Regions from separate parts of the Homo sapiens genome. Here region 1 is linked to region 2. The links come from fine-mapping of genetic effects on gene expression. A gene starts in region 2. The other region holds a variant in brackets. All regions are shown on one strand. Distances are from middle to middle. Region 1 overlaps MAP3K15 (mitogen-activated protein kinase kinase kinase 15). Region 2 holds the start of MAP3K15 (mitogen-activated protein kinase kinase kinase 15).

What was found. PIP is the estimated chance that this variant, and not a neighbour inherited with it, causes the effect. A credible set is the group of variants that fine-mapping cannot tell apart.
Region 1: its variant is the best candidate, but not a certain one, in a credible set for the expression of MAP3K15 in whole blood (TOPMed, PIP 0.77).

The regions. Positions count from the first base shown.
Region 1 is chrX:19,490,463-19,494,729 of GRCh38, forward strand. The region is part of intron 1 of MAP3K15 (mitogen-activated protein kinase kinase kinase 15); the gene reads right to left. Among named protein-coding and RNA genes, the nearest start is that of MAP3K15, 23 kb to the right of the region's middle. The variant T/C (reference allele first, on the strand shown) is at 2,133.
Region 2 is chrX:19,513,204-19,517,470 of GRCh38, forward strand. It overlaps MAP3K15 (mitogen-activated protein kinase kinase kinase 15), which reads right to left and starts at 2,305. Exons shown (of 29, transcript NM_001001671.4): 1 at 1,698-2,305. The coding sequence starts at 2,058.

The DNA of each region.
Region 1 (4,267 bases), 23 kb before region 2:
CCTGGCTGGGCGCAGTGGCTCATGCCTGTAATCCCAACACTTTAGTTGGCCGAGGTGGGCAGAATGCTTGAGCTCAGCAGTTCAAGACCAGCCTGGACAACATGGCGAAACCCCATCTCTATAAAAAATACAAAAAATTAGCCGGGTGTGGTGGTGCGTGCCTGTAGTCCCAGTTATTCAGGAGGCTAAGGTGGGTGGATGGCTGGAGACTGGGAGGTCGAGGTTGCAGTGAGCTGTGATCATGCCACTGCTCTCCAGCCTAAGTGACAGAGTAAGACCTTGTCTCATAAACTAAAAAAAAAAAAAAAATAAAATGCACCCTGGAGTTGCACCCTGTAATAGAGACCTATTCAAAACAGAGGAGCAACTTATTACATGAATAATGAGCATGTTTAAATTACGCTTAGTAGTATGGGGCACCGTTTTAAAACTCAAAACATTCTAGAGGATGTAAGAGTTCCAAGTTTGATGGGAGCTTCCTTACCATGTGCAGTGGAGATATAGGAATGTAGTGTCCAAACTCATGCTCGCACTGCTGTGACTTCTAGAAAGTCACTCAAAATCCCGATGGGACACAACAGAGGCCAGTTGAACAAGGGCGTGAAGAAACATGAAGGCAGGCAGGCAGCATATCAGCACCAGACACCGCTAGCTCTGTAGAGAGGCGCTGGGAACCTGAGGCCAAGTGCCACTAAGCCCCAGAGTGGGCCCTTTATTCTCTTATTTATGGATTGCCTGCTGTATGGCAGGATTCTGATGGGTGCCAGGGATAGAAGTGTCAACAGGGCATAATCACTTTCCTCAAAAGAAAAAACCAACTACAATACAATGTGGGTAACCAGAAGGAAGGGGATGGTTAGGATCACCATGAGGGCAGCCAAAATAAGGGAAACAGTGAACAGAGCACCCCCAGGAGGGCACATAATCCACACCTGAGCGGAGGGCAATCACAGAATGCCTGGAGGAAGGGATACTGTCCATGACCTGAGGCTCTGTAAGAGTCAGGCAGGCAAATGGGATGAGGATATGGGGGATCAAAGGGAAGGAAAGAGCGGTGCATTAACAGAAGCCAGCTAGTGCAAGGGGCCAGCAGCAAGCCAGGGTGTAAGTGTGAAGGCCACCCACATATCACTTCCTGGGGCCACAATACCCCAGAAAACGAGCCTGGAGGTGGAGGGCTGGACCTTCCTTGAGGCAATGGGAAACCTATGGTTGGGTTTTTTAACTTTTTATTTTTACTTACTTATTTATTTTTGAGACAGAGTCTCAAAAATGCATGGGTACGATCTCGGCTCACTGCAACCTCCACCTCCCAGGCTCAAGCTATTCTTGTGCCTTGGCCTCCAGAGTAGCTGGGACTACAGGCATGTGCCACCATGCCCGGCTAATTTTGTCGTATTTTTAGCAGAGATGGGGTTTCACCACGTTGGCCAGGCTGGTCTCAAACTCCTGACCTCAAGCGATCCGCCCACCTCAGCCTCCCAAAGTGCTGGGATTACAGGCGTTAGCCACTGCACCTGGCTACTTTTTTTTTTTTTTTTAAACAGAGATGGGGTCTCACTCTGTTGCCCAGGGTGGTCTTGAACTCCTGGGCTCAGGCAATCCTCCCACCTCGGCCTCTTAGAGTGCTAGGATTACAGCTGTGAGCCACTGCTCCTGGCCTCTTTAAAACTTTTTATTATGCAGAACTACAAATATACATAAAAAGTAGACAGAATAGTATAATGAAATCTCCATACCTCCCACCTCAACAACGATCAACTCAAGGCCGGCTTTGTTTCATCTTTACTACCATCCGCAACATCCACCCCTCCCTCCCTGTGTTATTTTAAAATAAATCCCACCAGACACCACGTTGTTTTATCCCCCAATATTTCAGGATATATCACTAAAAGATGAGAACTCAAAGAAAAAAATAACCATAGTATCAATGTCTCACCTAAAAATATTTTTAAATAATCAAGAGAGTTTTTTAGCAGGAGACTCTCAGAGTCAAATTTACCCTTTAGAGGTCATCTACTAATGAAAGGATGCACGTCTATACTGAGGAAACACTCTACAACCCAGCCTCATCAATTTCTCTCAAATGGGTAATTCCACTCCCCAAAGACATTTGCTTAGAGTCAAGATAA[T/C]GCGCCACTGCAGCTGAGTAAATTAGACATTCTGCCTATAGGATTGCTTCCTGGACTCTTACTTATCTACATTAAAAATTATATGTTTCAGGCCGGGCGCGGTGGCTCACGCCTGTAATCCCAGCACTTTGGGAGGCGGAGGTGGGTGGATCACCTCAGGTCAGTAGTTTGAGACCAGCCTACCCAACGTGGTGAAATCCCGTCTCTACTAAAAATACAAAAAATTAGCTGGGTGTGGGGTGGGCGCCTGTAATCCCAGCTACTCGGGAGGCTGAGGCAGGAGAATCACTTGAACCTGGGAGGAGGCGGTTGCAGTGAGCCAAGGTTGCACCACTGTACCCCAGCCTGGATGACAAGAGCGAAACTCTGTCTCAAAAGATTTTTTTTAAAATTACATGTTTCATAGTGATGTTATGAAAAAGTAGCAACATAGATATTAATTCCAAGGCCATGGTGACTGTTATAATTAGTTAATAAAGGCAAGGAAGCAAATAGAAACAGACAAAGGGGAATAGCGGAACGGGGCAGAAGGGAGGATAGGGACAGTAGTCCCGAAGTCACACAGCCCATTTTCACAGGCAACCTTGAACGTGGCAGAGGAACTTGTTGCCAAGATTCCATTTTGATCAAGTGACATGAAGTCCTCCCTTCTTTGCCTTCTCAACATTCTGTGCTGGGACCCACCGGCCTACCAAGGATTGGGAGAGACTTTTCACTGTCAATGAAAACAGGACATATTAATACTGCTACTCAAAAAAAAAAAAAAAAAAAATTCTGAGCAATTCATGTTCAATAGGAAAACTGCCTCGAATCTAAAGTTGGAATTTTTGCCTGACATTTGTCACTCAGGCCAGTAGACTAAGTTCACTTTGAGGATTTATACCAAAATAGTATGCAACTGGCTTATTTTCAGAATTCCTAAAACACGAATTTAGCATCTGATTTATAAATTGTTAATTGTAATAAAACACCAGATTGGAACTTTTATTCTATACAAAGAAAAAAGGGCTTTATCCCTAAAGAGAGCACCAGTTACCTAAAACCTTTCATCATCACCGTGGTCACATGCTTTGCCATTTACAAAACACTTCCACAGACTTCTCAGTTGAATTTCAGAACCCCAGCAGGCAGGCAGGGCAAGCACTGGCTTCACTAAGCAGGTAGAAAAATGAAGTGCAAAGAGGTTAACAGACTCGCCCAAGGTCGCTCAAGTACAGCATGAACAAGTCAGGGCTCAAAATCAGCTTTTCCAACCCCAAGTCCTGTGTTCCCCGATGCCCTCATGAGGCTTAGTACATTCCTGACACACTGTGTAAAACTGAGCTACCTGGGGGCAAAACAAATTTATATATCAGGCTAAATCTTAAGCAAAAAGATCACAGATAAAAAGGAAGAGATAAAATTCAGATTTTCATTCCCAAATACACCCTGTGCTCCTAGCAACCATTACCTTTCAGTTCCTACTGACGCAGGCCAGCTTCAGGGAAAAAAAAAACACATATCATATAAACCATCTTTTCTGACCCTGAGGCAGGCACACACACCCACCCTACCTATCTTGGTTTAGCAAACTTTAAGAAGTGATACCAGGCATGGTGGCGTGTGCCTGAAGTCCCAGCTACTCTGGAGGCTGAGGCAAGAGGAGCACTTGAACCTAGAAGTTCAAGTCCAGTCTGGGCAACATAATGAGACTCTGTCTTTTTAAGAGAGAGAGAGAGGAGGAGGGAGAGAGATACTACATCAAGGATTTGCAAAAAGCCAAGGTTCCAGTTGAAATCTATGCTTAGCAGGAAAGTGTAATTTAAAAACCAGTTACAATGACCTCAAGCAGGAGGTCAATTACAAGGACCTTGAAACACGCTAGTGTTAAATAAGAAAGATGATGCATAGGACTTTAGTTCGTTGAAAACTTTTGAACACTATCTTGAATACTATTTTTGCTAAATGTTTTATGGGTAATACATAAAACTATAATTTTCTAGTGTGGTTTAAAAGTATCTGATTTCTGAAGCAAAGCATTAGTCAACAAAGTGATATGATGGCAAATGATTTACCATATAGTAATTCTGTGACTGTACTGGCTCATACCAGTCTTTAAATATATACCAGGTTATCCTTAAGTCTATCTAACTCCC
Region 2 (4,267 bases):
GTCTGCATCTTCACAGTCGACCTGTTAGAAGGGCCCCCCGTACACACACACTCCGCCCCAGGGAAAGCAAAAGCCACCGCACACAAATCTTTCAGAGGTGGCACCAGCAGGAAGGAGAGTGTTGTGCCTCATGGCAAAAGGAACATTTAACCGTTCAGAGAAGAGTCTGTTCAAACTCCAATTTTGGAGCAGAATGAATACAAGTTGAGAAAACGGAGTGGTTCTAGGTGAAGTGGACTCCTGAACGACTTTTCTAAAAAGATGTTGTGCTGAAGAGTATACTCAGTGTGGTCAGAAATGTCAGGAGAGTGCTTTCAATGGGTCCAGCTGCCACTTGTTTAAACAAGCCTGACTCCCCCCCTACCCCGCCCTTCCAGCTGGGGAGAATTTGCTCTGCAAGAAAAACAGATCTGCGCTGCCTCCAGCAGAGGCTGAATCCTAATCATCCTAGCTTACTATTACAGCAAAGCAACTTCCCATATCCTATCTCATCAGCTTTTAGGTTTAGGGTAGGCACTGTTAACTCCCTTTGACCAGAAACTGAGGCACAAGGACTCCCAGGTAATTACTGTCTCACATATAATGCTTCTGAACGTCACCCAGGTGACAGAGGTTTGTCACCAAAGGTGCTGTAAGGGAAAAAACGTCAAGCAACAATTCATTCCACACCGAGAGAAACTCTTGCCAATCCAAAGTACGCTTCTTAAGGCTGGATTCTCAGGCACATTTATTATAGTGAGTTTAGAGACCTAGAGTCCCACTCCAGCAAAGGTGCCCCCTAACCCGTGAATGCTGTGCATTATGGGATAAAATATACGTCACAGGGTGGTGGCTCACACTCCACCGTCAGTGTTTTGGGGACGAGAATTGAAGTGTGCAAAAGAACACTGGGTATTTCTAAGTAGAGGCAACACACACACACGTAAGACACCGATTTCCACTCCTGGCTGCAAAATGGAATCGCCTGGGAAGCATGACACTTCTAAGGCCTCGGGTGCTTATGTCATTGGTCTGGGGTCCGATCTGGGCACCCAGAGTTTTAAAAGCTCCCCAGGTGATTCTAATATGTAGCCTGCGTTGGGACCCACGGCCGTAAGAGACCTTCCAGGAATGAGAAAGCAAAAGTTGGATAACTTGGGAGAAGGGGGGCTTGGTAGGGTCTGGGTTACAGGCTGTTTCTTGGGTTATCTGATGTTTAAGATGCCTGAAGAATCAAAGAGTCTAAATGCCCGTGGCCTCTATTTTCTTATCTGTAAAAGGGCACAATGTTAAAGACTCTACCCTCCCCCAAAGGCAGGACGGTCCTGTTGGACGGATCAGGGGGTGAGAGGATAGGAGGGGGGCTAAGGGGAGGGGGATGAGAGGAAGGGGACTAGGGGAAGGGGAGGTGGACTAAGGGGAGGGAGACTAAGGGGAGAGGGGACTAAGGGGAGGGGGGCCTGCGGGAGGGGGGACTGGGGGAGGGGGATAAGGGGAGGGGGATAAGGGGAGGGGGACTAGAGACGAGGGGGACTGGGGGAGGGGAGGGGGACTAGGGGGAGGGGAGGGGGACGAGGGGGAGGGGAGGGGGACGAGGGGGAGGGGAGGGGGACGAGGGGGAGGGGGACGGGGGAGAAGGGCGAGGGGGCGGGGCGGGTGCCCTGGCTCGTGTGAGGGTAGGTGAACTGGGACTGAGGTGGGGACGAAGCCGCTCTCACCTGCGTCGTAGAAGGCGTCGAGCACGGCCGTCTCCCCGAAGTCCAGCTCCCCGAAGGGCACGGAGGTGAGGTGAGCGCCCTCGGCCTCGCAGGCCCGCAGCAGGCACTGCCGCGCCCCAGCCTCCGGGCCGCCGGCCGCGCCGCCCTGGGAGCTCTCACTGCGCACGTATACTGCCCGCAGAGCCCGCCGCGGCCCGCCCCCACTCTCGCCCTCGCCGCTGCCGCCTGCCGCGCCCTCCGCCGCCCCGTCGGGCTCCGCCGGCCCGGCCGCGCCCTCCACCCCCGGCGGCGGCGGGCACTGAGGGGACTCGCTCGCCGCCCCGAGGGCCCCGGCCGGAGCATTCCCACCGCCGCTCTCCATGTGCCCGCCTGCGCGCCCTTCCCCTGGGCGAGTGGCCAGCGGCTGCGATCCGCTAGGAGGCACAAGTTACAGCAGCCGCGCAGGCGGTCCCGGCACCTGCTCCTGAAGCGCGGGACGCTACGGGAATCGAGGGAACGGAGCGCACCGGGGACCCCGCGGCGGGCCGAAGACGGCAGTACCCCTAGGCTGCAGCCTGACGCTCAGGCCCCAAGGCCCCCAGCGCCCTTTGAAGGCCGGAGAGAAAGAGGCGGGGGCTGGGGACGTCAGGGCGAGCGAGGGGCGGGGAGGGGGCCGGGGAGGGCGGCGGGGCAGGAGCGGGGAGGGTGCCCCCTGCTGCCCCCTCCAGGCAGCGCCCGCCCGCAGCCGGGAGACGCCGAACACGGGAACAGGAATTGGGGTTGTTTTTTTTTTTGTTTTGTTTTTTGTTTTTTGTTTTGGCCATCCCTCTAGCCTGACCACCATTAGGAGCTCCAATTTCTTTTTTCTCAAAACAACTTGAAGCATTCGAGCAGGGTAAAAACTCTTTCAAAGCATCGGTTGGATGGAAATGTTCTATTCCCAACTCAATACAGACGTATTAATAGTTTTCACCCGGCATTGGGATGAACGGATGCTTCATCCCTGGTTGCCAAGCGCACGGCCCCCCGTGAGCCCTGTGCCGGAGGCGAGCTCGTCCTGGCTTTCGCCGTGACCTTGACAAGGCACAGGGAGGCACCAGCAACAAATTTTGTCTGGAAGATAGACTCCAAGTACGCTGCCTGCCTGACCTTTGAAAATGCCGTGAACTCAAAGGGGCCCTCACTCGGATCTTAGGCACTTCACGAATTTGGACACAAATATTAAAAGAAAATAGTGTTACCACTGAGGGTAATACCATTATTCTTATTTTTTATCTTTTTTGAGACAAAGTCTGTCGCTATCGCCCAGGCTGGAGTGCAGTGGCGCGATCTCTGCTCTAGGCTCACTACAACCTCTGCTTCTCGGGGCTCAAGCGATCCTCCCACCTCAGCCTTCAGAGTAGCTGGGATTACAGGCACGCACCTCACCATGTCCGGCTAATTTTTTTTTTTTTTTTTTTTTTTTTGTATTTTTAGTAGAGACGGGGTTTCACTATGTTGGCCAGGCTGCTGTCGAATTCCCGAGTTCAAGCGACCCGCCCGCCTCAGCCTCTCCAAGTGCTAGGATTACAGGCGTGAGCCACCGCACCTGGGTCATTGTTTTCTAAAAGATAGAATGCACCGGACGCTGTCACAGACTTGGAGGTTTTTCTTTTTTCAATTGCAATATTATTTTTAAACTTTATTTTTAATTGACAAATAATTGTATATATTTATGGAATACAATCTGTTGTTTTTCATTTAAGTTCAGGGGTATATGTGCAGGTTTGTTACACAGGTAAACTTGTGTCATTGGGGTGTGTTGTATAGATTATTTCATCACCCAGGCATTAAGGCTAGTACCCATTAGTTATTTTTCCTGATCCTCTCCTTCCTCCCACCCTTCACCCTCTGATAGGCCACAGTGTGTGTTGTTCCCCTCCATGTGTCCATGTGTTCTCATCATTTAGCTCCCACTTATGAGTAAGAACATGGGGCATTTGGTTTTCTGTTTCTGCATTTGTTTGCTAAGAATAATGGCCTCCAGCTCCATCCATGTTCCTGCAAAGGACATGATCTCATTCTTTTTTATGGCTGCATAGTATTCCATGGTGTGTATGTACCACATTTTCTTTATTCAATCTACCATTGATGAGCATTTAGATTGATTTCATGTCTTGGCTATTGTGAATAGTGCTGCAATGAACATACACATGTATGTGTCAACAGAGTGAACAAACAACCTACAGAATGGGAGAAAATTTTTGCAAACTATGCATCTGACAAAGGTCTAATATCCAGCATCTATAAATAACTTAAATTTACAAGAAAACAACAAACAGCCCCATTAAAAAGTGGGCAAAGGACATGAACAGACACTCTTCAAAAGAAGACATACATGTGGCCAACAATCATATGAAAGAAAAGCCTCAACATCACTGATCATTAGAGAAATGCAAATCAAAACCACAACTAGATACCATCTCACACCAGTCAGAATGGCTATTATTAAAAAGTCAAAAAATAACAGATGGTGGCGAGGCTGTGGAGGAAAAGAAACATTTATACACTGTTAGTGGGAGTGGAAATTAGTTCAACCATTGTGGAAGACA